Regions from separate parts of the Homo sapiens genome. Here region 2 is linked to region 1. Evidence: fine-mapped expression QTL. A gene starts in region 1. The other region holds a variant in brackets. All regions are shown on one strand. Distances are between the middles of the regions.

What was found. PIP is the estimated chance that this variant, and not a neighbour inherited with it, causes the effect.
Region 2: its variant is the best candidate, but not a certain one, in a credible set for the expression of POLL in whole blood (INTERVAL, PIP 0.56).

What each region holds. Positions count from the first base shown.
Region 1 is chr10:101,584,718-101,593,054 of GRCh38, forward strand. It overlaps POLL (DNA polymerase lambda), which reads right to left and starts at 3,540. Exons shown (of 9, transcript NM_001174084.2): 1 at 3,105-3,540; 2 at 2,529-2,689; 3 at 1,145-1,439; 4 at 599-761; 5 at 1-202. The coding sequence starts at 2,643. It overlaps DPCD (deleted in primary ciliary dyskinesia homolog (mouse)), which reads left to right and starts at 3,604. Exons shown (of 6, transcript NM_015448.3): 1 at 3,604-3,683. The coding sequence starts at 3,620. RefSeq lists enhancers at 3,180-3,459, 3,560-3,889.
Region 2 is chr10:101,459,310-101,467,646 of GRCh38, forward strand. It overlaps BTRC (beta-transducin repeat containing E3 ubiquitin protein ligase), which reads left to right. Exons shown (of 15, transcript NM_033637.4): 3 at 2,672-2,749. Among named protein-coding and RNA genes, the nearest start is that of BTRC, 110 kb to the left of the region's middle. The variant C/T (reference allele first, on the strand shown) is at 3,925.

The DNA.
Region 1 (8,337 bases):
TCTCTGTGATATGGAGGTTGTGATTGGTCGCCTTCTGGCTTGAGGGCTGTGCACAGACCCACTTATCCAGGACAGCAGGGGCTGGGCTAGGCTCACAATCTCCCTCAAGGGAGGTGGGGTAGTGGCCACTGATGAGGGCTTCCAGATCAGCTGCACTAACCTGGGTTTCTTCCCCATCACTGGCTTCATCATCAGAGATGGGCTTGGGATAGAGAAGAAAAGAAAACAATAAATTCTTGTTCTCCAAGAGAAGGGATCCTTAAAGGTGGGGGTCATCTTCTTTGTGCGGGGGGAGGGTCTTCTAGTCAGACCTAAGAATGAGGCGGGGCCTTCTGCATCAGACTTGGATCTCCTTGGGTGTGAGGCCACGTTCCCTTTGGCTCCACGCAGTGCCTAGCCCTAGGATCCCCAGTGGTATGTGTTAGATATGGCCTAGATAAATGCAGCAGTGATGAGTGTTGGGAAGAGCTAAATGGCTTCACAATAGAGCCCTCCTCTCTCAGGGGCCTGGGACTTTCTGAACAGCCACCAGGCCCACCCCATTTCTGTGATCTGCTTCCTAGGGGAAGGGAGTTCTGAGGGATGGGAGGCTCCTGACCTGGGCTTGGGTGTTTGGTGCCTCTTTTGCCTTTTGGGGAGGAGACACAGGCCTGGTGGGAGGAGGAGGAGGAGAAAGGGCTGTCTGAAGCAGGGCCTCATGGGTGCCAGGAGGAATAGAAGCATCCTGCTCTGCCTTGCTGGGCTGTGGATGGTCCAAGTACCTGTGGGGATGGTGATGGGAGGTTAAGACACCAAAGGTCTCACCCTGTATCTGTCCCCAGTCCTTCTGTACTCTGAAATACTTGGTTTCCCAGTGTGTCCAATTAAGAAAACGAGTTTTTTGAGGTTTTTGGAGTTTCTCTTGAGACAGGGTCTTGCTCTGTCACCCAGGCTGGAGTACAGTGGTACGATCAAGGCTCACTGCAGCCTTAACCTCCCTGGCTCAATCAATCCTCCCACCTAAACCTCTTATAGCTGGGACTACAGGCACACCCCACCATGCCTGGCTAATTTTTTAATTAATGATAGTTATTTTTAATAATTCAAGAAAAGAGCTCAAGATGCTACTAGAAAACATTTGAAAAAAAGACTGGGATCAGCCCACCTACTGGGGATGAAGATGCTGAATCCAGCTACATCCACCAGCCTCCTCTCCTGAAGGCACAAGCTCAGCCAGGCTGACTTCACCAGCTGAGCACCCGGGGGCAGCTGGGGTAGTCTGAGAAGGCGGAGGGCTCGCTCATAGTCCATGCCTTCATCCACCACAATGTGAGTGACACCTGGGCCCTGGGCAGGGCATAGCTGGCCGCCATGCTGAACAATCTGCTTCTCAAAGAGTTCTGCCCGGGCTCGTCCAATGCCAGTGCGCACAACATGGGCCCGAAGGGAGCTCAGCCACTCTGTGGAAGGAACATCCAGATGACTACTGTTGTAACTTTTTAATTTTTATCTGCCACCCCCTGGCCACGACATAACTTCTAACATGATCTGAATGACGTGTTCACAGTCCCCTACCCTGAAAATAAGCATTTCCCTTCCATCCAGACAGCTTTCCTTCTACATATAGCAAATTTTCTCACAGGCCAGCACTTGAATGTAAGGGACAAGGATTTTCATACGTCCTGTTCCTTGGTGCAATCTAGAAGTGTCTGGCACATTGTAAGTAACCTGTAAATATTTGTTTAATGAATGCCTCCTCCCTTCTTACTTTGTTTTTTGTTTGTTTGTTTTGTTTTCTTTTGTTTTGTTTTTGTTTGGAGACAGTCTCACTCTGTCGCCCAGGCTGGAGTACAGTGGCATCGTCTTGGCTCACTGCAACCTCCATCTCCCGAGTTCAAGCGATTCTCATGCCTCAGCCTCCCGAGTAGCTGGGATTACCGGCGTGTGCCACCATGCCTGGCTAATTTTTTGTATTTTTAGTAGAGACAGGGTTTCGCCATGTTGCCCAAGCTGGTCTCGAACTCCTGAGCACAGGTGATCTGCCTGCCTCGGCCTCCCAAAGTGCTGAGATTACAGGCAAGAGCCACCGCGCCCAGCCTCTCTCCATACTTTGAATCCTTTATCATTTATTCTTTCAACAAAGCGCGTTTCTTGCCCTTACAGTCTGACAGACCCGACAACCCTGCCTCCAAAGCCTCTGCCATTTATTTGCCAATTTGGCTGCAAAACAACTAACAACAAGCCTGGGTAATGGAGGGGGGTTTCTGTCCCAGTCCTCAGGGCAAAAATTATACTGGTCATTCCCTGAGGGCCCAGGGAGTCTTTTCTGATGGATAGAGGTCTTCGGGTAGAAAAGAAGGTAACACAGCAAATAGCCTGTCCAAGACCCAGGACCAAGCTTAGCACAAGGTAGATACAAACAGACCTGCAGGCCCTGGACAGGCAGAGTCAGCTCCAATATCTGATTCTGGACATAAACAACGTAGGGCTGAAGCACATGAAGGCTGTGGGTTCAAGCACACGAGGGTTCTGAGACTGGGTCAGCTCACCTTCTGCTTCTTCTCCCTCTTCCCTCCTAGGAATCTTTGCAAGTACTTTTGATGATGCATCAGCATGAATTTTCTGCCGCTTGGGAAATGCCTTCAAGATACCCCTGGGATCCATTGAAGTATGGCTGGATCCCGGCCTATTGGAGCGTTGGTCAGGGCTGCTGCACGTGGAAATCCAGAATTGAGGCCCTCCAACCCCTTTGCCTATGGAGGTAGGGTCTTTCCTGACCAGGCTTTGGGGGTAGCAGCCCAGTTTGGGGAAGCGGGTCGGGGGAGGGGGTCTCTTCAAACCCGGTTAAACTTCAGTGGTTTAGCCTAGCTTCACACTCCCCAGCCTTTCGAAGTTGGAGTATTACGGGAAATGAGGGGAAGGCTGGTGCCATCGGGGGTACTTTTGAGGAGTAGGAAACGACACCATTCCTCAGAGGGGTTGCGCTAAAGATTCAGCACAGCCCTGCTGCGGCCCACTTCGAAGGGCTTTACCAAATGGGATGCTGGGCTAGGAAATGGAGCTTTAGGGGATGGAGCGGAGCCTGGGGAGGACCTGCACATAAACCCCACATACTATTTCTCTACCTCCAACACAGACTCGCAGAGGAAGGAGGAGGACTTTCGGGGGTGAGTGGGAACGCCCTGCACCTGTCCTGGTCTCAGCCTCTCGACATGGGGGTGCTCAGCGCCGCAGCTGCGGGGAGATGGGGCACGGCCGCAGCAGGTGTGGGGAGCCCTCCGGGAATGGAGGAGTCTCGCAGCTGCGGGTGAAGTCCCGGGCAGGTGCGGTGTACTCGCCGTGTACGCAGCTGGCGCAGGCCAGGGAATCCCAGCTCGGGGCTAGAAGAAAGCTGGAGTGCCCGACCCCGGCCCCAAGAGTCTCTCCAACCCCCAGAGTCGGTCCCCGGGTGGGGTCGACTACTGGCCAAGCTAGTCACCCGGGGGTGGGCAGGAATAGACCACTTACCAGCAGAGCCAATGAGAGCGGACGAAGGGGGGAAGGAGGGCAAATGGCCAGAATAGCTTCCGAGTCAGCCGGAAGTGACCCTCTGGAACGGTTGCCATGGCAGCGGCTGGGCGTGCTGCTTAGCAGGGGAAAGATGGCGGTGACGGGCTGGTTGGAGAGTCTGCGGACAGCCCAGAAGACTGCGCTGCTGCAGGACGGTAACTCGAGGGTCCCCACGGGCTCCTTCGTTTTTTTCCCTCAGGGTCCGGCCCTCCGGGAAGGGCCTCAGGGCCTGGGTCGGCAGAGCTGGAAGGGTCTCGGCGGTCAGCCGGGCCAGGTCCTGCATTTGCAGATGAGGAGACTGAGGTTCACAGAGATGACATGACTGGAACACATGTCTCCGGACACCCCTTAGATTCCTCTACACCATCTCGCTCCGCTCTGATTTCTGTTGCTAATATAGTAATTTCTTTTACATTCATTATCTCATTTGCTCCTCACCACTGTCCTGAGAGGCTAATTTTCACCCCGTTTTACAGAAGAGGAAACTGAAATCCAAGAATGTTTTAGACTTTAGAGAGGAGAGAGGCCTGGGCTCTAGTTCCGACTGTGCCATTAATTCACCACGGGCGCTTCAGTCGGCTCCTTTACTTGTTTGGGCCTCACTTTCCTCATCTATAAAATGAAGTGGATGGACTACCATTGTTATCTCTGAGGTCCTTTCCAGCTGTAATATTTTTGTTAAGTGAACTTCTAAATATTTTCTGTGTCTTTAGGGGAGCTAGAGCAAGAACCAAGGGCTGTGCCTGGAAGAAGTGGGCACAGGGGCATGGATACCTAACTTTTCCCCACCCTAGGATTGGCCGATGCCGGCCCCTTTGTGCACTTGGGTCCTTTCTGGACCCACTGGGTAGCCAGGATGAATTGCGTCTGAAGTTCCTGAGGCTTTCAAGATAACAACTGGTGACTCATGTTCACAGGCAGGGGCCAATCAGGGAAGCCTGGAGTTTGTGGAAATTAAAATCATTTACTCGTTCGTGCAACATTTAGGAAGACTTTTACTATGTGCCAAGCTCTAAACTAGAACAGAAAGAAAAAGATATGTTGTCCCAGGACTCAGAGTGGTTGGGAAAAACATGTACTTAAATAATAAGAAGCGTTAAATAGAGGTTGTAGTCTTGTATAAAATGGTAGGAAAGAGTGAAGGTGTAAGTGACATCTCTTTGGAGGAAGACCCAACAGAAGTGATGATGTTTCTGGGTCCTAAAGAATTAATAAGGTCAGGCACAGTGGCTCACGCCCGTAATTCCAGCACTCTGGGAGGCCAAAGTGGGCGGATCATTTGAGCTCAGGAGTTCGAGACCAGCTTGGGCAACATGGCCAAACCTCATCTCTACAAAAAATACGGAAATTATGGCCGGATGTGGTGGTTCACGCCTGTAATCCCAGCATGTTGGGAGGCCGAGTGGGCGGATCCCTTGAGGCCAGGAGTTCGAGACCAGCCTAGCCAACATGATGAAACCACCCCATCGCTACTAAAAATACAAAAAAATTAGCCAGGTGTGGTGGTGCGCACCCGTAATTCCAGCTACTCTGGAGGCTGAGGCAGGAGAATCGCTTGAACCCGGGAGATGGAGGTTGCAGTGAACTGAGATCACACCACTGCATTCCAGCCTGGGTGACAGAGTGAGTGAGACTGTGTCTCAGACAAAAAAATAAATAAGCCGTGCATCATGGCACATGCCTGTAGTCCCAGCTACTTGTGGTGGCTGAGGCCAGAGGATCGCTTGAGCCAGCGAGGTAGACGCAGCAGTGAGCCGAGATCATGCCAGTGCACTCCAGCTTGGGCGACAGAGCGAGACCCTGTCTCAAAAAAACTGGAAAAAAAAAAAAAAAAAAGAATTAATAGGCGTTTGCTGAGTGAAGAAGAGGGGATAGCTATTCAAAGAACAACTCACATATAAGGACCCTATGTGAAGGTGTGAAGGTACGTGCCTGATTACTAGAGGAATAACAAAATGTTTAGTAATGTTAAAGCAGTCACTCAGTCAGAACAAACCACCTATAACTATGTCAGGTACTATTCTAGGTGCCAGGATGGAAGCGAGAATAAAAAGGTCCCTTTTCTCAAGGAGCAATGAGGGGAAGTTGTGGAAAATGAAGAGAGATGACAGATAAGTTGGGACATATTGTGATAGATCTCTTATGCCTTGCTAAAGATTTAGGACATTTTCTCATAGGACAGTGGTTTTTGTTTTTATTGTGGTAATAAATACATAACAGAATTTAGCATTTTAATCATTTTTAAGTGTACAGTTCTGTGGCATTAAGTACATTCACATTGTTGTGCAACTATCACCACCATCTTCAGAACTTTTTAATCTTTCTCAACGGAAATTCTTTTTTTTTTTTTTTTTTTAGAGACAGGGTCTTGCTCTGTCACCCAGGCTGTGGGGTACGATCATAGCTCACTGCAGCCTTGAACTCCTAGGCTCATGTAGTCCTCCCACCTCAGCCTCTTGAATAGCTGGGACTACAGGCATGTGCCACTACACTCAGCTCAAGTGAAATTCTGTACCCACCAAATGCCAACTCCTCATTCCCTCCTCCTCCCATCCCCTGGCAACCACCATTCTACTTTCTGTCTATGAATTTGACTGCTCTAGGAACCTCGTCTAAGTGGAATCATACAATATTTGTCTTTCTGTAACTGGTGTATTTCACTTAGTGTAACGCTTCAAGGTTCATCCATGTTGCCACAGTTGGATACTTCCAGCTGTGCCATTAATTCACCACAGGATCTCTAGTTGGCCCCTTTACTTGTTTGGATCCTTTCCAGCTGTAATATCGTTCATAAAGTAAACCTCTAAATGTTCCCTGTGTTTTTAGGGGAGATAGAGCAAGGACCAAGGGCTGTGCCTGGAAGAGGTGGGCACAGAGGTATGGATATTGTAGCATGTGTCAAAATTTTGCTCCTTTTTAAGGCTGAGTGATATCCATTGTATGTCTACACTGCATTCTGTTTATTTATTCATCTGTTGATGGACACCTGGGTTGCTTCCACCTTTTGGGTATTGTGGATAATGCTGCTCTGAACATGAGTATACAAATATCCACTTGAGTCCCTGCTTTCACTGTTTTTGGTCACAGAAGTTTTTAAACAAATATTTTATCAGCCAGGATTTTGTTAAGTTCTTTTGTTAGTAGCATCACAAAATGATATTGTTAAGATTCCACCCTATCCCCAGACTGAAAAACAACTCAGTATTGCATATGTGGTTAAGCCTTGTCAAACCTGCAGATTTACCCCTGGGTGTGTAGGAGGGGTGTGGGGAGTAGGGGGGAGGTTACTCCCTTCCACCAAGAATCATGGCTATTGATATCTTGGGCTGGATAATGAGACTCCATTTTACTTTTGTTTTTTTAAGAAATAATTACATTCATTGTGGAAATATGAAAAATAAAGAAGTCAAATATAATATTACCACCCAGATAATCATAATTTACTTTTTTTTTTGAGACAAGTTTCACTCTTGTTGCCCAAACTGGAGTGCAATGGCGCAATCTCGGCGCACTGCAACCTTTGCCTGCTGGGTTCAAGCGATTCTCCTATCTCAGTCTCCTGAGTAGCTGGGATTATAGGCGCCCGCCACCAAGCCCGGCTAATTTTTTTTTTAATTTTTAGTAGAGACAGGGTTTCACCATGTTAACCAGGCTGGTCTCAAACTCCAGACCTTAGGTGATCCGCCTGCATCGGCTTCCCAAAGGGCTGAGATTACAGGCGTGAGCCGCCTCGCCCAGCCCATAATTTATATTTTTATACATAAACTTCTATATTATTTCATGCATACACTCACAGTTATTTTTCTTTTACAAAAATATACTAATATACTTAATAATTTATATATACATTTATTTCTAGAATAAATATACTATTAAAACAAAGTATAGATAAGTATCGAATAATCATTGGGTAAGGGAAGATGCTCTGAGTGCAACTTCTAAGGCAGTAACCACAAAGAAAGAAAATATATAGTTGGCTTTATAAAAACTAAACACCTGTGTTGGGTACCTGTAATCCCAGCTACTGGGGAAACTGAGGCAGGAAGCTCACTTGAGGCCAGAAGTTTGAGGCTGTAGTGTGCTATAATCATGCCTGTGAATAGCCACTGCACTCCAGCCTAGGGAACATAGCCAGACACTCTTAAAAAACAAAAACACTTGTTTGGGAAAACCCACTTTAAACAAAGTTAAGGGCCAGGCGTGGTGGCTCACACCTGTATTCTCAACACTTTGAGAGGCCAAGGCAGGAGGATCACTTGAGCTCAGGAGTTTGAGATCAGTCTGGGTAACATAGTAAGACCCCATCTCTACAAAGAAATTTAAAAATTAGCTGGGCATGGTGGTGTGCAACCATGGTCCCAGCTACTCGGGAGTCTGAGGTGGAGGATCACTTGAGCCCAGGAGGCAGAGGTTGCAGTGAGCCGAGATCACACCACTGCACTCCAGCCTTGGCAACAGAGCAAGACACTCTAAAAAAAAGCCTCAGTTGGCCGGGCGTGGTGGCTCATGCCTGTAATCCCAGCCCTTTGGGAGGCTGAGATGGGCAGATCACGAGCTCAGGAGATTGAAACCATCCTAGCCAAAATGGTGAAGCCCTGTGTCTACTAAAAATACAAAAATTAGCTGGGTGTGGTAGCATTCACCTGTAGTCCCAGCTACTCAGGAGGCTGAGGCAGGAGAATTGCTTAAACCCGGGAGGCAGAGGTTGCAGTGAGCCGAGATCACACCACTGCACTCCAGCCTGGCGACAGAGCGAGACTCTGTCAAAAAAAAAAACCCTCACTTTTCCTCATCTATGAAATACAGGTA
Region 2 (8,337 bases), 130 kb before region 1:
ACTACTTAGGTATACATGGCTATTTCATCATTACCCCTTACCCTCAAGACTGTAGACCTAGTAATCTCATTCACTGGCATTCTGCTTCTACTCTTTAGTATTAGGAGGGTTCCTAATCCTTGTTCCTGATATCATGACTGTTTAATGTCCCTACCTCTATTTTTTTGTAACAACATTATAAGTTGGATTTTTTGTTTGATTTGATTTCTCATGATGGATGGCCCAGAGTAAAAGTGTTGGGTTAATCTGTATTAAAAGAACATACCAATGTTTATGGGTTTCCCCCATTTTTTGTTTAAGAGTTATTTTTAACAATACCATTTAAATATTCTTTGCCCTAGTGGGATAGAAAGGGGAAAGGAACTCCTAAGAAGCTCTGTGTTCTATGTTAGGTTAGTAACACCCTTTAAGCTCCCTTTGTGTTTTCATTCTTTAGACATTTTCATAATACCCACCCAGTGGTTATCCATCTAAATCTGATAAAATAGAGGGTCAGTAAAAAGAAAATTGTGAGTATGGGCTAGTCAATACTCAGGCTGTTAAGGTTGAGATGACTATTTTTCACTTTATAATTCAGTATAGAGGAGTTTGCCAGCAATTGTGTATCAGCCCAAGTACCTGTATAATAAAAATGTGATTTATAGTATCTTTGGTATGACAAACTTCCAGCAAAAAGTAATTAGGCTCCAAGTTATATGATAACATTTCAAAAAACATAATTAATTTTGAAATACAGGATCTTACACTGAATTAAACAGGTTTAGTTTATCTGATCTTTTTATTTATTTATTTAAAGGAGGAATTTCATGACCTGAAAGAGAGTTACTTGCAAATTCTAAGTTTATAATTGGATACTGGCTTAAGCTTCTATTATATAAGGCATTTAATTTTGGTATTTAAAACATTGATCTTTACATTTAAAAAAAAAAAGTTAAACATACAACTTGATGTTATGGGGTAAATAAATGTTGACCTTTCCCTTTCTTTGTTTGATACTCTTACATAGCATGTATTGCCAGTCGCCTCATTTGTCAAGCTTTGTAGTCATTAATTCAATTATATCCTTCCTCCATTTTTTGGTAGATGATCTCCATTCCTTTTTTTCCAAACAGGGAGGAAAAGAAGTTAGAACTCTGAAGTTCTTGAGTCTCTGTCCCTTTCTTTGTAATATAGCATGCTTTTTCTTTAATTTTAGGGACTTTTACAAGGGATCATCACAAATGTAAAATATCAAGTTAAACCTCATAAGATATTTCTGCCCAAAAGAAACACATTAGGGTACTGGCCTGTCAGGCTTACTAAAGGTGACACACAGGTGTCAGCCACAGAGGTGAAAGGGCCTCAGAATGACACAGTACGTTTTTTATCTCTCAGTATCTTTCAAAATGTAATATCTAATAGAAACCAAAAAAGTGAAATTTACATGTAGGTTTAGAACACAGTAATGATTGTATATTAATAATTTCATGCTTGTATGAAAATTTTCAGATAAACTCTCATGTTAAAAATAATTTCTGAACCTACAAATAAACTAACCCTCCTGTTAGAACGTTATGACTATATGTAATGTAAGGAATATATTAACTGTAAGTTTTTTGTTGTTGTTGTTTTGAGACGGAACCTTGCTCTGTCACTCAGGCTGGAGTGCAGTGGTGTGATCTCGGCTCACTGCAACCTCGGCCTCCTGGGTTCAGGCGATTCTCCTGCCTCAGACTCTCGAGTAGCTGGGATTACAGGCACCCACCACCACACTTGGCTAATTTTGTATTTTTAGTAGAGACACAGTTTCAGCATGTTGGCCAGGCTGGTCTCAAACTCCTGACCTCAGATGATCTGCCCGCCTTGGCCTCCCAAAGTGCTGGGATTACAAGTGTGAGCCACCGCACCTAGCACAACTGCAGGGTTTTAAATATTAATGTTATTAATGTTACTAATGTTGTTGCTGAAAATGGAACTCAAATAATATGTAATTTGGATTTTCTGTATTTTGCCTTGTAGATAGTGATTTACATATATTGACTAGCAGATTTTTAGTACTTATGAACTCATTTTCAGTTGGATTGTTGTTTTTTTCCCCCTCCTAAGTATATAAAAACCCCACTGACATTTTAGGGCCTCTAGCTGCTGTTTGAGGTGACAGTGCCAAGGAATGGACTCTAATCCTAAACTACTGAGTAAATGTTTTTTTAAGTCCTATGCTACTTTTATCAAAGAAAATAAAATCAAATCTGAGAAGAGGGGGAAGAGAAATAACTATTTTTAGGACCCAGACTTGGAGATCTGTGCCAACCAAACATCTACTATAATCGAGAGAAGGTAATAATCATGGTTTTAGTTGTCATCAGCTAAGTGTGGGCTGGAACTTTCTTGTATCCAGTGTCAACCTGTGTCAAAGTGCAAGCTAGAGATCTAATGAATATGATCTCCTACACAATGCTTAAAGATACATGAAATACTTCCCATCTAAATCCTTACATAATTTATTTATATACATGGGCATATGTTTTCTTTTACATATGTGTATATCTGTATGTATACAAATCTTCAAGTGAATAATTGTATAAATATATGTATGTTCTAACTTACAGAATTAGAAATGTAATTCAGTTTACTCCCAAAGGATAAGATTGAAGATAATGAGAACTGAATTAAAGCTTACTTTCTTTCACAGAATTCCTCAGAGAGAGAAGACTGTAATAATGGCGAACCCCCTAGGAAGATAATACCAGAGAAGAATTCACTTAGACAGGTATGAAATTCAGCCTTACTTAAAATAAAAAGCTACCAACAGCAAAACAAAAGACAGGAGGAAACCCTTGATTTGCCATTCTTTAAGCACTGGAGCTTATATTAAGAGTACTCGGACGTTGGCCTGGCCATAGCCATCACTTTCAATCAGGTGACATGGTTTTCCCAGTTATTTAAAAAACATTCTAGGTATACATGTACAGGACAGCTGGTTGGCATTTTTAAAAAAGTATAAAAACAGATCTGCCTGTAATAAAGTTAGCCCTTTTAGTATGAGCAATATTTTGTTTGCTTTTTCTAGAAGAAAAGGCCATTGTTAATAATAACTTAAAAAAACAGCAGCCGGGCAAGGTGGCTAACGCCTATAATCCCACCACTTTGGGAGGCTGAGGCAGGCGAATACCTGAAGTCGGGAGTTCGAGACCAGCCTGACCAACATGGAGAAACCCAGTCTCTACTAAAAATACAAAAATTTGCTGGGCATGCTGGCGCATGCCTGTAATCCCAGCTACTCAGGAGGCTGAGGCAGGAGAATCACTTGAACCCCAGAGGCAGAGGTTGCGGTGAGCTGAGATTGCGCCATTGCACTCCAGCCTGGGCAACAAGAGCAAAACTCCGTCTCAAAAAAAAAAAAAAAAAATAGCTCACCACTGTGCCCCAATAGAAGGTAACACATTTTACTTGTGAAAGTTCAATACCATTGTGTTCTTGTAAAAATTAGAATGTCCTTGGCAAAAACAAGAAACGCAAGTTCTTATGATGTTGCCAGAGAATAAGTGTGCCACCTATTCATTTTTATTTTTATTATTTTATTTTATTTTTATTTTTGAGACAAAGCCTCACTCTGTCGCCCAGGCTGGAGTGCAGTGGCGTGATCTCGGCTCACTGCAACCTCTGCCTTCTGGGTTCAAGCGATTCTCCTGCCTCAGCCTCCTGAGTAGCTGGAATTACAGGTGCCTGCCACCATGCCTGGCTAATTTTTGTATTTTGGGGTTTTTTTTTTTTTGAGACACAGTCTTGCTCTATCGCCCAGGCTGGAGTGCAGTGGTGTGATCTTGGCTCACCACAACCTCCACCTCCAGGGTTCAAGCGACTCTTCTGCCTCAGCCTCCTGCGTAACTGGGACTACAGGTGCCCACTACCACACCGGGCTAATTTTTGTATTTTTAGTAGAAA[C/T]GGGGTTTCACCATGTTGGCCAGGCTGGTCGCAAACTCTTGACCTTGTGATCTGCCCACCTAAGCCTCCCAAAGTGCTGGGATTACAGGCATGAGCCACTGTTCCCGACCTAATTTTTGTATTTTTAGTAGAGACAGGGTTTCACCATGTTGGCCAGGCTGTTCTCAGACCCCTGACCTCAGGTGATCTGCCCAGCTTGGCCTCCCAAAGTGCTGGGATTACAGACATGAGCCACCACACCTGGCCCTGTATTCATTTTTAATATAAAATTGGATACAATGAGCCTGAGCAGCAGTAAAAATAATTCTAATTTACTTGGATTTATAGCATTGTTCTAGGAAATAGGAGATCTAATATTTGTTGAGCACCCACCGTGAACATGATGCTTATTTGATTTAACCCTCACAATAACCCTGTAAAGTTTTTAGATATGATGTGACTTCCAATTTATAGATGAAGAAAATGGAGGGTTAGAGAGGTTAGATGACTTGTCTAGCTAATTAGTGATTTGATACTCAGATCTCAGTGTTTCCAAAGCGTTTCTACTTGTGCCTTCTGACTTCAGTTTATATATAGTGTTTAGAGGGAAAGTACTTGAAACTGTGACACATTCATTTTTTAATTTACTATATGTTAAATGTTTTTTGGATGAACACTTCTTTTTTTTATAAAAATAATTGTTTAGTAAATAGAATTGAATCATCCAGGAAGCTTTAAAAAAAAAAACAAACAAAAATCCACAAATGATCAGTAATTGATGTTGAGACAGTTACAATTTTAACTGTTTGGAGAATCAACACCTGATCTGTTCATCTAAACCAATAGGACAATACTGAATAAGATAAATTGGGAAGTAGGAACACTCTGCCCACTATACAGAAACAACTGTCGGAAAACAATGACACAACAAAAGTTTTGGCAACTTTATTTAAGCTAACAAACGAATTTTCTCTCTGCAAAGTTATAAATTAATTTTAATAGGCTGATCCAGATGGTCCATTTGGAAAATGGATAGGCTGATCTGTTGAAAATTAAACTAAATTTATCTCTCTCATACTTCAAACTGAAGCAAGAGAGAGAATCATGCCTATTAAGTCCAGCACATACAGATGGACCAGCAGGTCACACATGGGACTAATCTGATTCATTTTAAAAATAAATGCATACATTATTGAATCATTTTCTACTTGCAAGATCTGTTGTGTGCAATATTCGAAAGAGATTTAATGTTGTTTTTTTCATTGCCGTTTTAGCAGGTTCTCTTCCCCACTCCCCCTGCCCACTTTAATTTAACAACCTTCCCCCCCACCCCCCCCATGGTGCTTTGAAATGATTTTTCTAATATCTGTCATTCAGTGTTGAGATCCAAGCTCTGGAGATTAATTAGGTCATGAGGCTTTTTCTCCTCCCTTCTTTGTAAAGGGTTTTATCTCCATTCTCTTTGTGAAGAGCATGAACTCAATGTTCTTGGAAAGAGAAATGGCCTTTAGAAACAGGGAAGTAGGAGATCCTCCTGGGGCCCTCAGAGTCTTTTAGCTTCTGGGTGTTTTAGCAGCCCCATGAATGCAGATTTGTAAATTTATTGCAGTGCCATCTGGTTTTTTGCTCGAACCAGATTACTGTTGGCTTGTGTCTGTCTATTGTGGTGGTCACTCCCTAGGAGCTTGCCCTCTCTATCTTAGGGAAGAGTGATGAATAGCAGGGGTCAATAGAAGCGGGTCACAGGGCAGCTGTCCAGGACTGCCCTGAACTTGATTACCCCATTGCTGATTTTTTTTAAGGTAGGACATAGTATATAAGCTGTTTAAACTCCCTCTTTTCTCTATTGCATATGACAATAATGAAGTGCCATTTGCTATTTTGTTTTTTTGTTTTTGTTTTGTTTTGTTTTTCCTGTAGTCAACTTCTGTAGACAAAAAGATGTCAAGGCCGCCTTATACCTAGTATTGATACAAGTAGGATTTGCATCTCATTAACTTGAGATTCTTTTGCAGATATTTCTAATGGGATTTCAGAAACTCACTATTGATTATAAAAAGTTCAGTTATCTTCTAGCAATTTAACATTGTTTTTAACTAATATTATAGTTGACATATATTATTCAAAAATAGCGTTTTGCCATTGTTGATAGGACATAACTACTGCATGTTAATTTGGAGAGCTATTTAAATATTGGAGGAGCAAACAACTTTATACCAAAAATTTGGCAAGTTGAACAAATTCCTTGAAAAATACAACTTACCAAAACTCTTAACACAGGGTGAAGCAAAATTTGAATAGCCTGATGTCTATTAAATAAATTTAATTAATCATCAGAAGGGACATGTGGTTTTACTGGTGAATTCAACAAATATTTAAGGAAGAAATGATACGAATTTTATGCCAGACCCTTTCACAGAATAGAGAAGGAAAGAACACTCCTTGACTTAAAAATCCACCATAACAGTAATTCCAAAACCCGACAAAGATATTACCAGAACAAGAAATAATGAAGGTGGAAATTAAGAGACACTGTTCCCTGTGTCTGTCACCAAGTCATTTTGTATACCTGCTTTTTCGTTTCATTTCCAGCATCTGAAGATGGAAGAGTTTGGGGTAGGGAGAGGAAGTAGAGCAGTGTATCCTTGTAAAGAAAGTTAATTTTCTTAGTTTCAGAATAATCTCATTTCTTGGCATTAAATATGAACTTTTATTTAAAGGATGTACAAAATAGCTACAATTTTTGTTTTACTCCTAAAAATGTGAAGTCAAGGAAAGGATAGCCACTGTTTTCCTACCTTTTATTCCTATCTGCAATCAAGGGCAAAGGCCTGGGAGGATACATGAAAGTACTCATTACTTTTTGAAAATTGTGGCATTACAACGTTCAACTCTTTGCTTCTCATTGGTGCTAATAGGATCTGTCAGCCCTGCCTTTCTCTGTAATTGAGTAAATTGTGACCGTTGTCTAATCCCTCTCCCATCCCCCATTTCCTTTGTGTATGTGTCCACTTACCATCCTGAGAACGTGGGCAGTGATAAATAAAGCATTGAGTAGAGCTCTCTCAACTCTCTGAAAGCAGCATGATGCCAGCCCTCTAGTTATATTTCTTTAAGTGTTTAGGTTTTTCTGTATTCTTTCTCTTGTGTAGCTGGAACCCTGGGGATGCAAAGCCATGAGAGAGGCCAAGAAGCTAACAAAGTAGCTGTCTCCCTTGTTAGCTTGTTCCTTTATTCTTTAAAAACAAGATAAAAACCATCTGGCTCAGGGCATTACATTTTCCTCCCCCATGCACCTCTATAGATGGAGACTTCACCTGCAGTGAGGGTTTACATTGATTAGGGAGGGAGCAGTAATTCAAGCTTCCATCCTCTTCAAGGATACTTTGCAGTCTTTAAAGGTGCTGACCCACTGAGTTAGACTGTCAAGGGAGGATAAAAAAGTATCTTCATCCCAGGAGGTAACAGCTGCCAGGTTTTCAACACCTTGCACGCTGCTGGAAAAATGTCACAATTGTCAGCTGAAAGAAAAATGACTGTGTTGTCATCTTCTGTTAATGACTGGGCCTTATAAAAGGAACTACATAAGTCTTTTAGAAGGAATAAGTAGCTGTTTTCCTTTTCTACCATATTCCCCTCCCCTGAAAAAATTCCTGCGTTCTAAACATTGCCTTGGAGTAGATCCACAAAAAACAGCAGTGAAGAACTTAAATCAGCCAGTATAAGCATGGAAGTCTGATGGGCATAGCTCCTTTATACAGTTGGATGAGTAGGAGGAAAAAGCACATCACTGACACAGAAAATGACATTATAGTGTGTATTAACAAAACAACCACAACAACAAAAAGTCATTCATAAGCCAGTGAACTGAGAGAAAACATACTGTATTTCTGTTCTTTGGAGGACAATTTATTTTCAAGCAGCATCCAGATGGGTAAATACCAAGACATTTCTTTTTTCAAGAGAGCTCCTTTTCTTCCTTTAAAAAAAAAAAAAACACAGAATTTGCTTCCTTTAATAGCTCTGTAATGTTCATATATGATGGCATTCCCTTCTTTCTGATTTGATTGATGAGGGAAAAAGGTTTAATGAAGTCCCTGATATCAGGCAGGCAGGGTTTTTTTTTTTTTTTTCTCTCTATTTGTTTTAGGTTAGTCACTTTAATTGTATTGAGTAATTAGAAGGTACACACAGCCAAGGGAGCTTTGTTCTGATAATTGCTCGAGAAAACCCATTCCCTATCTGCCGTTGCTTTGTGTTAAGACACTTCTCCCTCTAGTGGCAATAGTAAGCACTTTGGCTTGGCAGTAGGCAAGGTGTAATTGCAATATGACAAACTATGCTTAAGGGACTGTCTTGTAAATACTTTCGTTTGGGGTTTGCATTATTTCATTATATATGTGTGGTTGGTTGTTGTTGGTTTTTTTTACTCTA